Homo sapiens: one gene and its partner. The protein of the gene in region 1 purifies or fractionates together with the protein of each later gene. This does not show direct contact. Each region holds a gene or a part of one and is shown on either strand. Other genes may lie near its edges.

What was found.
Region 2: the proteins of MTRFR (region 1) and MYLK2 purify together in Homo sapiens (affinity purification with mass spectrometry; 3 studies listed by BioGRID and IntAct, with this or other methods). This does not show direct contact.

The regions. Positions count from the first base shown.
Region 1 is NC_000012.12:123,236,162-123,243,550, forward strand, and holds part of MTRFR (mitochondrial translation release factor in rescue), read left to right. Parts: intron 1-6,466; exon of another isoform or gene 6,467-6,873; intron 6,874-7,389. UniProt on the Homo sapiens protein: Part of a mitoribosome-associated quality control pathway that prevents aberrant translation by responding to interruptions during elongation.
Region 2 is NC_000020.11:31,822,059-31,829,447, forward strand, and holds part of MYLK2 (myosin light chain kinase 2, skeletal/cardiac muscle), read left to right. Parts: intron 1-1,418; coding exon 1,419-1,524; intron 1,525-2,200; coding exon 2,201-2,294; intron 2,295-4,546; coding exon 4,547-4,656; intron 4,657-4,738; coding exon 4,739-4,880; intron 4,881-7,389. UniProt on the Homo sapiens protein: Implicated in the level of global muscle contraction and cardiac function. Phosphorylates a specific serine in the N-terminus of a myosin light chain.

The DNA of each region.
Region 1 (7,389 bases):
ATGAAACAAGGTGTAGAAAGGATAATTTAGTTTCAAAAATTGAAAACCTAATGGTTTCCAAGATAGGTCTTACTGAGATAATCAGGAAGTGTGCATCTCTTATTTTCTTTATTTGTATTAAATACAATAATGTATTTGAAAGTGCTTTGCAGCTGCACGTGGTGGCTCACGCCTGTAATCCCATCACTTTGGGAGGCTGAGGCAGGAGGATTGCTTGAGCCCATGAGTTCGAGACCTGCCTGGGCAACATGGCAAGACCCCATCTCTACAAAAAATTAAAAACTAGCCAGGTATGGTGGTACACACCTGTGGCCCCAGCTACTGGGGAGGCTGAGGCAAAGAAGCTTGCTTGAGCCCAGGAGGTCAAGGCTGCACTGAGCCATTTTTATGCCACTGCACTCCACTTGGGTGACAGAGGGAGACCCTGTCTCAAAAAAAAAAAAAAGAAGAAGAAACTGCTTTGGTTTGTATATGTTTAAGTCCTAAACAAACACAAGGCATCGTTAATAGAAATATAGGCTTTGAGACTTTTGGAAGAAAATATACAGTGTTGTTATTCCTGCTTTTTTAATGTGTTTCTGTTTTAATAGTGTAGTTGATAAATTATAAAGTTCCCGTTAGATGCCATAAATAGAACAAATATGGGGCCGGGCGCGGTGGCTCACACCTCTCAGCACTTTGAGAGGCCGAGGCGGGCGGATCGCCTGAGGTCAGGAGTTCAACACCAGCCTGAGAAACACGGTGAATCCCCATCTCTACTAAAAATACAAAAAATTAGCCAAGCGTGGCGGCATGCGCCTGTAGTCCCAGCTACTTGGGAGGCTGAGGCAGGAGAATTGCTTGAATCTGGAAGGCGGAGGTTGCAGTGAGCTGAGATTGCGCCACTGCAGTCCAGGCTGGGTGACAGAGTGAGACTCCGGCTAAAAAAAAAAATAGAAGAAATATGATACACACAAATAGCACAGGTGTAATTCTGTGGATTCAAAGTTTTCTGCTTAAAAAAAAATAAACGGGGCCAGGCACTGTGGCTCACGCCTGTAATCCCAGGACTACGGGAGGCCAAGGCAGGCGCATCACCTGATGTCAGGAGAAACCCCCGCCTCTACTAAAAATACAAAATTAGCCGGGCATGATGGCAGGTGCCTGTAGTCCCAGATACTCAGGAGGCTGAGACAGGAGAATCACTTGAACCTGGGAGGCAGAGGTTGCAGTGAGCCAAGATCACGCCATTGCACTCTAGCCTGGGTGACAAGCGAAACTCCGGCTCAAAAATAAAATAAAAATGAACGAGATGTTGGGATTGTGTGAAGTGAATGTTTTCCTCTTTACTTCATTAGCTATCTCTTGAATTCTGCAGCATTAAGCATTCAAGCATTAAGCCTGTTAAATTTAGACCAGACCTAGAGTAGTCTCTTTTTCCTCCCGTCCGCCAAAATCAAAGACTACAGCTCTGCATTTCCTGCTCAATCTATTATGCTTTCCTTGTTTGAGAAATAACTATCTGCAAACACTTACTGTGAGTGAAGGGTGCTTTATCTTCAGCGTAAAACCCCAAGTCTAGGAAATGGCATGGTCTGTTTCAAGCCTTACCAGCAATACTCACTGGTTCCATTTGAGAGGTTTCAGCCCTTAAGGATTTCAGATACCTACAGCAGGAGGATGAGCTAACAGGAGGATGTGAAAGACAGGGAAATGCTACTTTCTTTTTAACTACCATTTTACAGACAGCACCAAAACACTTTTTTTTTTTTTGAGACGGAGTCTCACTCTGTCACCCAGGGTGGAGTGCAGTGGTGTGACCTCAGCCCACTGCAACCTCTGCCTGCCAGGTTGAATCCATTATTCTGCTGCAGCCTCCCGAGTAGCCGGGACTACAGGTGCACACCACCACATCTGGCTAATTTTTTGTATTTTAGTACAGAGGGGGTTTCACCATGTTGCCCAGGCTGGTCTGGAACTCCTGAGCTCAGGCAATCCACCCTCAGCCTCCCAAAGTGCTAGGATTACAGTCATGAGCCACCACACCCAGCCCCAAAACACATTTTTGAAACATGAATTATTATTATTAAGCATTTGTCAGAAAATCATTTTCCCCTCACTTAGCTTCTGGCACCACCTGCTGGCCGTTTTGTCTTTTCAAAGCAGCAACATTGCACGTTGGTCTGTTTAAGCTCAATGTTGTTTGGCCCTTAACTGTTTATTAGGTCATTGTTTTGAGACCTATGGTTTCATCTCCTTCTTAAGGAAGAGACAAGACGGAATAAGCAGGTAATCAGCCCTCCTGAATTCTTGTCTCAGTTTCTTAAATGTCATATAAATAAGAAACATGCTGGGCATGGTGGCTCATGACTGTAATCCCAGCACTTTTTGAGACCGAGGCAGGCAGATTGCTTGAGCTCAGGAGTTTGAGACCAGACTGGGCAACATGATGAAACCCCATCTCTACTTTTTTAGAAAAGAAAAAGAAAAGCTTTTAAAAGTGTCTGTCCTAGCAATCAGAAGAACTTGCTGATTCCTGTGTTCTGGAACAATGCTTGTCAAATTTTATGTGCCTCTGCATCACCTGAGGATCTTGTTAGGCTGCAGGTTCTCATTTGGTAGGTCAGAGCAGGGCCTGAAATCTTCATTCCTAACCATCCTCCACGTGGTGCTTTTGCCACTATGTGGACCACACTTTGGGTAGCAAGATTCTAGAGCTACATTGTCCCATAAAGTAGCCACCAGCACATGTGGCCCAAACTGAGATGTTCTGTAAGTATGACCATAACCTAGAATTTGAAGCCTTCATATTTAGGGGGAAAAAAGAATATCTCAATTTTAAAATATTGGCTGGGTGCAGTGGCTCACACCTGTAATCCCAGCACTTTGGAAGGCTGAGGAAGGCAGATCGCTTGAGTTTGAGTTCCAGACCAGCCACAGCAACATGGTGAAACCCCGTCTCTACAAAAAATCCAAAAATTAGCCAGGCATGCTGGTACATGCCTGTAGTTCCAACTACTCAGGAGGCTGCGGTGAGAGGATGGCTAGAGCCTGGAAGGCAGAGATTGCAGTGAGCTGAGATGGCGCCACTATACTCCAGCCTGGGTGATGGAGCCAGACTGGTCTCAAAATAATAAAACGTTGATCACGTGTGGAAATAATAGTTTTGATATATTGGGTTAAATATACATTTCATCATTTATTATTTCTAATGTAACTACTAGAAAATTTAGAATTTCACATGTGGGTAGCATTAGTTTTGTTTTTTTGTTTGTTTTTTTGAGACAGAGTTTCACTCTGTTGCCAGGCTAGAGTGCAATGGCGCAATCTCGGCTCACCGCAATCTCCACCTCCCAGGTTCAAGCGATTCTCCTGCCTCAGCCTCCCAAGTAGCTGGGACTACAGCTACGTGCAACCATGCCCAGCTAATTTTTTGTATTTTTAGTAGAGACGGGGTTTCACCGTGTTAGCCAGGATGGTCTCGATCTCCTGACCTCATGATCTGCCCGCCTTGGCCTCCCAAAGTGCTGGGATTACAGGCGTGAGCTACCGCGCCCAGCCCAGTAGCGTTAGTTTCTATTGGACACCACTGTTCTAGAACATTAACACAACAGAGGTGACATTTTTTATTTTTTTTTCCCCCAGATGACCCAGTTTCCCAATCTCCTTGTTTCCATGTCACCATCTCTGCTAGCTCAAATCAGTATTTGTTTAATTCTTTTCTTGGGACGATTTCCTTGCCCTCCCATCACACTCCTTTACACCTTCTCAGCCTTCACCATTGCCATCATGATCCCAGGGATCTCATCAAGCAATGAACAGTCCTATGTGCCAGAATACTAGCAGCATCCTTGTTTAAAGCACTTAGCCTTGCCATGGGGTGTGGGGCCTGGACCAGCAGCAACAGCCTCATCTGTGAGCTGGTTAGAAATGCAGAGCCTCGCCGGGCAAGGTGGCTCACGCCTGTAATCCCAGCACTTTGAGAGGCTGAGGCTTGTGGATCATCTGAGGTCAGGAGTTCGAGACCACCCTGACCAACACGGTGAAACCCCATCTCTATTAAAAATACAAAAAAAAAAAAAAAAAAGCTGGACGTGGTGGTGGGCACCTGTAATCCCAGCTACTTGGGATGCTGAGGCAGGAGAATTGCTAGAACCCGGGAGGCGGAGGTTGCAGTGAGCAGTCAGGGTGACGGAGACTCCGTCTAAAAAAAAAAGAAGAAGAAATGCAGAGCCTCAGGCCTCGCCCCAGACCTAGTGAACCAGCATCACAAGTCACAAGACTCCCAGGTGATTTGTATGCACATTAAAGTTTGCATGGGGAGACTGGCTGGTGAGTACTTTAACAATCTTCGTAAAGCACACTGTTTCAGTTAGTCTCCGCACCTGTTCCTTCAGTTAGTTTTAATGAAGTTTCTGCAAGGTTTATATACCATGAAAGTTGTAGCTAAGGTAAACTAGTGCTTTACCTTTCAAAAAAAAAAAACAAACAGTGAATTTTAGATAAATGGCGTCCAGAAGGCAGGTCCAGAGATTGACATCTCATGCTTTCCTGAAAATAGATTAAATATCCTTTATTTTATTGACCTTTTTTTTTTTTTTTTTTTTTTTTGAGAAAAAGTCTCACTCTGTACCCCAGGCTGGAGTGCAGTGGCGTGATCTTGGCTCACCACAACCTCCGACTCCCGAGTTGAAGCGATTCTCCTGCCTCAGCCTCAGCACACCACTGCACCCAGCTAATTTTTTGTATTTTTAGTAGAGATGGGATTTCACCATGTTGGCCAGACTGGTCTTGAACTCCTGACCTCAGGTAATCTGCCCACCTTAGCCTCCCAAAGTGCTAGGATTACAGGTGTGAGCCACCACACCCAGCCTCAAATATCCTTTAACCTTTTCAGAGACACGAAATGAAAGGCATTACCATCCTCTTTACTTCTCTCCAAAGTGAGAGCTGTTGATGACACAGCATCACCTCCTACATCTAGGCTTTTATTTGGGGTTGTTTTTTTTTTGTTTTTGTTTTTTTTTTAATAAAAGAGATGGAGTCTCACTATGTTGCCCAAGCTGATCATGAACTCCCAGCTTCATGGGCTCCTCCCACCTCAGCCTCCCAATATGCTGGGATTTCAGGTGTGAGCCATCACACCCAGCATTATTTTATTTTTTATTGTATTTTTTATTTTACTGTTTTTTGTTGTTGTTGTTTTTTGAGACAGAGTCTCGCTCCTTCAGTCTTCGCCCAGGCTGGAGCGCAATGGCGTGATCTCGGCTCACTACAACCTCTGCCTCCCGGGTTCAAGCAATTCTCCTGCCTCAGTCCTCCCAAGTAGCTGGGACTACAGGTGCCCACTACCACCCCCAGCTAATTTTTTGTATTTTTAGTAGAGACGGGGTTTCACCATGTTGGCCAGGATGGTCTCGAATTCCTGACCTCAGGTGATCCACCTACTTCAGCCTCCCAAAGTGCTGGGATTACAGGCACGAACCACCATGCCCAGCCTATTTTGTTTTTTAGAGATGAGGTCTCCCTATGTTGCACAGGCTGGAGACAGCTTCTGGGCTCAAGCAATCCTCCCACCTCAGCCTCCCAAGTAGCTGGGACTGTAGGCTATTATCTTGTTTGCTCCGGCCACAGGCCTTGTTGCAGAGTTGAACATGCCATCCCTGCAGATAGTCTGTCTTGGTTTGAGTTGAATTTGGAAGCTGGAGGAGGGGTGTGCTGACCAGATCCAGTCATGAAGAACGCCACTCAGTAGCACATAGGTTTCAAATCCTGACAGCAAGCTCTCCAGGAGGATGAGGGGCATAGAAAGTTTGAGAACCACTGCTCTATAGTATGTTATCCATCCTCAGCTATCACATGTATCCTGTTTGTGCTTGTCTTCATTTCTCTTTTATGCTACAGACTCTTTAGGCTCTCTGAAGCCCATGCCTGATACTCAATAGATGTTTTAAATATTCTTGCACAAATTAATGTTCCCTTTTGTAAATTCCTTAGACCTGTTATCTCTGAACTTAACCAAGTTGGAAGGGACTGAAGCAATGACAGGAGCTTTCACCTTAACTGCGATCAGCCATTTAGTGCAGAAGCCATCATCAAAGGAAAAGTAGAGCCTAGGGAGTCAGGGTAGAGCGCCAGCCCTACGCCGAAGCTCACGTTTGAAGAAGGGAACTGGGGCAGAGCTGTCATGACTGCTGGTTTCCTCTTACTAGCACTTCTCTGTACCATTTTTCTTTTTCTCTTTTTTCATGTCACAATGAGCTATAATTTGAGCTGCTTTTATTGTTCCCTAAAGACTTTGGATTACTCTGTATCACAAACACTGAAATCCAATTCGTATTTTTTTGGCCTTTGGGGAAGTGGAACCATGGGTGTGTTTGTCATTTTTAGCAGTCATTGGAGTAGGGCCAAAGCTCCAGGAGATACTAAAAGTGTCTAGAATTGTCTGATTGGCTGTTGGAATTAACTGTTAAACAAAGCAGCCAGTAACTGAACACCGGAGACCTTCTTGAACTCCAGCTGGGTGGGAGACCTTCCAGTGTGTCTGGCAGCTCTGAACTAGGACAGAAAGGTAGAGATTCAAACAGTGGACTGGTGACAAAGCAGCTGATAAAAGCACTCTCATCTCCATCCTTTGTCTGGGAGTCTCGCCTTGCCTTGGAATCACTTCCTCTCTTTTTCCCTGCACTGGTTTGTGCCAGCGCTGTCCTGCCTGGTCACATTTACCAGCTAGCGGATGAGAAACTCAGAAGTGCGGGGCTCATGTTCCATAATGAATTGAATCCGGGACTACAGGCTGCCTGATACACAAATGAATTTTGTTTTGTGGATTGAAAACAGGAATAAGGAAAGATAAGTTTTGGACATTGACTTAGTCTACTCAATCTTTCGTAGGTAAGGTGATTCTTAGAGAGAGTTCAGAGAAAGTGCCTGGGTTTATCATTTATCTTTTTCTAAGGTATTTGATTTTATACACATTTCATACACATTAAACAAAACCAGTTTTTAAAGCACCACTTTCCTTGGCACACTCCATTTCAAAGTATATCCCTTCACAGTCATGGAGCATCTTGCCAATACCATCTTTTAAAACAATTTTTTTTTTTTTGGCTGGGCGCAATGGCTCACGCCTGTAATCCCAGCACTTTGGGAGGCCGAGGCGGGCGGATCACGAGGTCAGGAAATCGAGAACAGCCTGGCTAACATGGCAAAACCCCGTCTCTACTAAAAATACAAAAAATTAGCCGGACGTGGTGGCAGATGCCTGTAGTCCCAGCTACTTGGGAGGCTGAGGCAGGAGAATGGCGTGAACCCGGGAGGCGGAGCTTGCAGTGAGCCAAGATCACACCACTGCGCTCCAGCCTGGGCGACAGAGCGAGACTCCGTCTCAAAAAAAAAAAAAAAAAATAC
Region 2 (7,389 bases), on another chromosome or scaffold:
CAATCTTATTTTTTAAGATGTATTTTTATTTTTAAATTTAGTATTCCCTTTTGATAGATGGGGAAAGGAAGGCTCAGAAAAAGGAAAATGAAGTGCCCAAACATATCCAGTGAAGACAGGATTTGAACCTGTCAGGCCACCCAGACTCCAGAACCCACTTTTGAGTTTTTTCTACTTTGACTAAAATGAAGTTAAAAAAAAGAAAAATCAGGCAGATTATTGGAGCAACACAAACTCCCTGGGCAATGGAATTTGGAGTCAATCTGTAGAAGGGCTCAAATGCCAGGCTTAGTAGCTAAACTGTATAGTGGGGTGGGGTCGTGGGAGCTATAGAGGGCTCATGCGCTGAGGAGCACAGGTGCCTGTGTGTGGGAGCAGTGACCAAGGAAGCTGGGCATGTGCAATGGGGCAGGACTGTGGAGTGGCCTTCATTGATGATTAGACAAGCAGCCCGTGGCTTGTTCATGGGCTGCAGAGAGCACTGAGTGTGAGTGAGCTTGGCCAGCAGGTGAATAGGGAAAGGGCCTGGGCAGGGGTGCGGCAGGGCTGGGGGTGGGGTGAGATGGGGTCAGGAGAACCCAGAGTGTCCTGACACCCCCCTGCCTCCAGGCTGAAGTGCCCTGGGAGACCCGCCAGCCTGCCTGGTGAGCGGCACCGTGCCACCCAGACAGGGTGGGAGGACCTGGCGGCTGGGCGGCAGCCAGGAGCCCTGCCTCCGCCCCTAGCAGCCGCAGAGACCTCCGCCCCGCCCCGAAATCGCATCCTAGAGTGACAGGATCTGAACCACCTCCAAAGGCCGTTTGATTTATCACCAGCCCGGCTTCCCTGCCGCCTCTTGCTATTTATAAAGAGGTTTCCATTCCTGATGACCGCCTGCCGGCCTGCCAGCCTTCAGGGCGAGCGGTTCCCCACACTTGCCGCTAGGTGGCGCCCTCTCCCCACCAAACAGCACGGTCCCCGGTCCCGCCCCGCCATGGGTGGTCTGGCCAGATTGCGGTGTTATTAGGATGGAGGGTGGGCAGGTCCCACCACCTACCCCATTATTCAGACATAGCAACCCCACTGCCTGGCATTCCGCTTTATAGCTGCTGTGTTTGATTGTTTTTGGTGGAAATGCAGATAGCTTGGGATGGAGTCCTTGTGTCTTATAATGCAGAGGGTCCAAAAAGTCCAAGCTCCCATCCCGTTTGTTCTGCCAGGAGAAGCTGGTCCTCCCTGATAGGAGTGTTGTGTTGGTGGCAGAACTGATATTGGAAACTGGGCCCCATAGCCCCTATCCTGGAGCCAGGTGTCCCCCAGGTATCACTTGGTGAACTTAACTTCCCTAGATGGGGCCCAGGCCAGCAGGAGGGGTGGTGCCAAGGGGAATCCTCAGCAGCCCCTGGCACTGACCATGAGGGCTGTGCTCTGTCCCCCAGATGATTGCCCGCCACCTCCGGCCCCCTTCCCTCACCGCATGGTGGAGCTGAGGACCGGGAATGTCAGCAGTGAATTCAGTATGAACTCCAAGGAGGCGCTCGGAGGGTGAGATCTGGGACCCCAGCTGGGCACTCATGGACAGAGAGTACACCGGGCTCCTGTGGCTTCACATTTCCCCTGTGCAAGGCCCAGACACACACCCCGCTGAGACATGGCCACATGGACATGTTCACCTCTGTGTGGGACACACACTGTGTGCAGCTGTCACATGCTGATGTGCACTCAGTGTTGCTGTCACTTACTCAGACGCACCGTCAGCCATTCAGTGCTTCCGTAGGAAATACACAGCATTTTTCTGTCTGTCTCAGCTCCAGGCACCACACTGACCCCCTCATGGTGATTCCTGCTTTGTAAAAAGCCCTGACTCAGTCTTATACCTCTGCAGATCCTCCCTCTGCCTGAAGGTGCCCTCCCCCAGGGCCCAGGGCCTGCCTGCCCTAAACCTCTAAGGGTCGCATCCCAGGGCCATCCTCCCTACACGCCTGCTCTTCCTGTGCACGTGGTCTGTGTGGTTCAAAGAACCTGCTTCAGCCATTGTCCTGGCAGAACAGCTCACAGCTTCAGGAGGGAGTCAGGGCTGGCTGGGGTGAGTGCTCCCATCTCACCAAAGGGGATCCAGAGGCACCACTGGGTCTGGGACCAAGTTAGGATCAGAGCAAAGGATGCCACTGACCCCGGTGGGCTCTGGGGTCCCCTCACTTACAGCCTCTTCTCTTTCCAGTGGCAAGTTTGGGGCAGTCTGTACCTGCATGGAGAAAGCCACAGGCCTCAAGCTGGCAGCCAAGGTCATCAAGAAACAGACTCCCAAAGACAAGGTAGTGAGGTTGCGGGGGTGGTGGCTGCCCAGGATGGGGAGGGGATCCTTGGAGTGGGCACCTCTCGCCTCCCTCCACCAGCGCTGCTGAACCTGGGGCCTGGTATGGGAGTTTGTTGCAGTGAAAATACTACACAGATAGAGAGATGGATGGACAGCCCTGCAGCAGGGGCCTGAGGACCCTACCCATAACCAGATACTTCAGTTAGTGAACTTATCTGGGGACTTCCCTTTTAGGCATGGGATATTCATGCCCTCTGGTTCAATTCAACAAACACTGATGAGTGTGGGCTCTGGGCCAGGCCCTGTGCTGGGCACTGGGGGTCTGGGAGTGAAGTGGGTGTGGTCTCCACCCTCAGGGAGCTGAAGCCAAGGTAAACAAGCCTGGCCTAGAGCTTTGCCTCTAGTACCCACGGCCTGGGCTGGGTTCAGAGGAGGCCACGAGCAGTGTTTGTTGAAGGAATGAAAGGATGCAGGCAGGTAGAGTGAGGGAGTCTGCTGTGTGAGGAGGTAATAGCAACCTCGTGTGACCACAGCTGTGACTCAGGGAAACTGCGGGGTAGCATTTTGGGGTTCAAGAGAGCTTCTGACTCAGGCCGAGGGGTCAGGGAAGCTTCCTGGACCAGCTGCCTTTTGAGCGAGGGCTTTGAGGAGACGTTCCAGTGGAGAAGGCAGGGGCAGAGTTTCAGGCAGAGGGGACTATGGGAGGAAAGGCTCGAGGGCCAGAGATAGCAGGAGGTGCTGGGGAGTGAGGTTCTGGGCATCCCAGGCAGAAGCCACAGTGTGGGCACAGGCCCGACCCCAGTGAAAGCGTGAGAAGCAGCTCTAGCCGCTGCAGCCCTGGGTCCCCATTATGGCTCTAAGCACACTGGAAGGAGTGCATTTTCTATGTGACAACGTCCTTTTTCGTCTCTTCCACTTACAGGGCCTGGGTCCGTGTTATTGTCTCCTAGGTCCCAGGCCTCTGTCACAGGCTCTGGCTCAGCATAGATGTTCAGTACCTACCTGCGGCTCAATTAACTGGGGCCAGTTTTCAGTTGATAATTATTGAGCACTTCTCTGCCATTCAGTGGGTCAGGGGCTGGGGAAATGTCAGTGACCTAAAAACACCCCTGCCCTCATGGGCTGACATGCTACAGTGGAGGGAGAGACAACTAAAACATAAAGCAAAAAGAAAAAAGAAAAGAAAAGAGAAGAAAAGAAGGCCTGGCATCAGGTACTGAGAAGTGCTAGGAGGGAAAATAAAGCCAGGTAAGGTAGAGGGGGTACAGGGCTGATGGGGGCGCTTTTAGATAGGGAGGTGAGATCAGTCCTCTCTGAGAAAGACATATGTGAGGTGAGAACTGAATGAAGGGGTGGGTAAAGGCAGAAGGGGAGCCATCCTGGCAGTGAAACAAGGGTTAGTGTTTAACCACTGGATCTGGGTAGGGCAGGTGTGGAGAGAGGCCCGATTTACAGCATTTGCCATTTCTCATGGTGTAAGTATTCCTATTATAGCCGATATATCAGCCTACCGATGTGACAGCTGGCTTGCGACTTTCTGAAAGTGACAAATAATGGTGTCTTAAACTAGGAAGGCAGTGGTGGAGGAGGTGCGAATGATTGGATGTATAATCTAGCTTGAAGGTAGATGATGCTGAAGAGTTGGGTCGGAGGTGGGGTGTGAGGGCGCGAGAGTAAGGGAAGAACTTAGGATGGCTCGTAACTTTTTGTCCTGCACCCTTGGGTGAAGCGTGGGGGTACTTTTGCTGCCAGGCAAGCCGAGAGCAACTCAATTGTGGGGAAGGGACGATGTCTAAGGTCTAATTTTGGACATGATAGATTTGAGATGTCTATTAGACAACTAAGGCAAGTAGACAGTTGGAGATATTGGAGTCTAGAATTCAATGGAGTGCTCAGAGGTTGAGATGTATATTTGGAAATTGATGACTTTGGATAAAATGTAAAGTCATGAGACTTTATGCAGATGCCCAGGGAGAGAGCAGAGAGAGGGAAGCGGTGAGGGGGGAGGATGGAGATCTTGGCATGTCAGTACTCAGGAGAAGAGCCGGCAAAAGGAAGATGTCCCAGCAGGCATGACTTGGGAGTGGTGAGGACCACAGATGTGGGGGTGGGGGAGAGAGGAGAGGCAAGGAGGAGGCTGAGCAGTGATCTGGGCAAGGCTAGCAGGCCTGTTCAAGGGTGCGGGTATGGAGGGTGGGTGGCAGGGAGTGATGGTGCCCAGCTGGTACCCTTGACTTCCCTGGTCCCCAGGAAATGGTGTTGCTGGAGATTGAGGTCATGAACCAGCTGAACCACCGCAATCTGATCCAGCTGTATGCAGCCATCGAGACTCCGCATGAGATCGTCCTGTTCATGGAGTAGTGAGTGCCCGAAGTAGTGGTAGGGGCTGGGTGGGGGTACCACCAGGCACGGAGCAAGCCGTGGAGGGGTCTGTGCACACAGCATCGAGGGCGGAGAGCTCTTCGAGAGGATTGTGGATGAGGACTACCATCTGACCGAGGTGGACACCATGGTGTTTGTCAGGCAGATCTGTGACGGGATCCTCTTCATGCACAAGATGAGGGTTTTGCACCTGGACCTCAAGGTACCAGACTGGGGCCTCCTGGGAAGGGTCAGGGGCAGCCTCCGACCCCCTGAGATCAGTGCTGTCACCAGCCATCCCTCTGCCCTCCCATCCCTCCATCTCTTCCTTCATCCATCCTTCCCTTCATAGATTCAGAAAGGGTTTATGGAATACTTACCAAGTGCCAGGAGCCGGGGGCACAGCAAAGAGAGAGAGGGGGGGAAAAAAAAAAGACGTGGTACCAGCTTTCATGGAACTTCTAGTCTAGTACTAAGTATTTGTTGAAAGGGCCTTTTGCAGTCCTGTGAGCCCCAAGCTCAGTGTGTCACACAGACAAGTGGCTAATAAGTGTTGCAATAGCACCTGCCTCAGCCTTGGCCCATGATAGGTACTAGGAGTGTCTGATCATTTATTCAAAAGCAACAAATATTTCTTGAGGGCCTACTTTATGCCAGGCAATGCTCTAGGTGGTGGAGATCCTGTGGTGAACCAAACAGATAAAAATCCCTGCATTCTTGGAGCTCTCAAATAAGTATAGTGTCAGCGTGGCAATGTGCATGAGGTAGGCGCTAACAACAATGTTTCGTGAAAGAATATTGATATCCTTCTTCTTTTTTTTGAGATAGAGTCTCACTCTGTTGCCCAGGCTGGAGTGCAGTGGCGCTATCTTGGCTCACTGCAACCTCCGCCTCCTGGGTTCAAGCGATTCTCCTGCCTCAGCCTCCCGAGTAGCTGGGATTACAGACACCTGCCACCACACCCAGCTAATTTTTGCAGTTTTAGTAGAGACAGGGTTTCACCATGTTGGCCAGGCTGATCTTGAACTCCAGACCTCAAGTGATCCGCCCACCTCGGCCTCCCAAAGTGCTGGGATTACAGACATGAGCCACTGTTCCCGGCCTGATATCCCTCTTCTGACCTTGCTCACTACCATGCACATGGTAGGTCAGGAAGAGCAGATCTGCTTTTTTTTTTTTTTTTTTTTTGAGACAGAAAGTCTTGGTCTGTTGGCCAGGCTGGAGTGCAGTGGTGTGATCTTGGCTTACTGCAACCTCTGTCTCCTGGGCTCAAGCAATTCTTTTGCCTCAGCCTCCCGAGTAGCTGGGATTACAGGCGTGTGCCACCATGCCCGGCTAATTTTTGTATTTTTAGTGGAGACGGGGTTTCGCCATGCTGGTCAGGCTGGTCTTGAACTCCTGACCTCAGGTGATCTGCCTGCCTCAGCCTCCCAAAGTGCTGGGATTACATGTGTGAGCCACCGTGCCTGGCCACAGATAGGTGTATACATTGCAGCAACTCCAGTCAGTTGTCCGTAGCTGTCCGGAGCTGAGTGTGGAGCTCTGGGTGTGGAGCAGGGAAGGGCAGCAGGAGTGCAGGGGGTTGGCAGTCCTCATGGCAGGTGTTAATGCTGTGCGTTAAGTGGCGGGACATGGAATCTTAATGTGGAGGCGCGTGAGCACCCATCAGCAAAGTGGATGGTACTTTCATTCATTCATTCCATAAGCATATGCTGGGTACTTTCCTTAATTCATTCGATAAGCACGTGCTGGGTACCTGCTCCTGGAAGGCCCCGTGCTAGGCATAGGGACTGTGAAGGAAATGGTCCCTGTCTCATGGAGCCTCCAGGGGAAACAGACATTCATAAAACAATTCCTAACTAAATAGGTCATTTTAAGCCATGAAAAGTGTTTGAGAAAATACACGAGAGTAATGCGGAATCGCACTGGGTGAAATTGAAGTCAGCACGGGTCTGAAGCAGGCAGGGAGATGCTGTTGCCGCCTCTAACACCTGTCCCAGTTTTGCTCTGTGCCCGACACTGTCTGAGTGAGGGTGCCATCTTCCCAACAGTCCCCTGGGTTAGGTGTGTTAATATCACTGCCACTGACAGAGGAGGACACAAACAGGGTGAGGAGGTGGGTTTCAGTGGGGCCAGAGTGGATGCAGGGAATTTAGAGGCTGATGGAGTAAGTAAGCCAGGAGAGAGATGCCAGGGGCTTGAGCCAGAGTGGCAGTGGGAGAGGGGAGGGAAAGGGGCCAGATGGAGGATACATTTTGGAAATAGAGCCAATCTGATGTGCTGAGGGTTTGCATGTGTGAGGGTTAGGAAAAGAAAGGATCAAGGGTGAGTCCTGAGTTACTGGACAGATGGTGGCCCCTTCACTGAGCTGGGGGCAGTTGGTGCCTGCATGATGACATTGGAAGACTGCCTTTCCCTAGTGAAGGCTAATTTCTTTGGGGCAGAATAGGGTCCCCCAATTAAAATGCAGTGCTCTGGGAAGAAGCTCAGTCGTGAGCCTCTGTATCCTAAAATGTGTTTTTTTCAGGATAATAATACGTTTTTTGTCAAAAAAAGTGTTTCACGGTCAAGTAGGTTGAGTGCACCCCAGCCCACAGGCCATGTCCTGGGTCTCTTGGCTGCAGGGCTTCTGAGGGCCTCCTGTGTGTAGATGGAGAATCTCTGAAAGGAAATTTGAGTCTGCTTCATTTCCCCAAATGCTTGTACCCTGGGACCCTTCTTTTCTTTCCTGT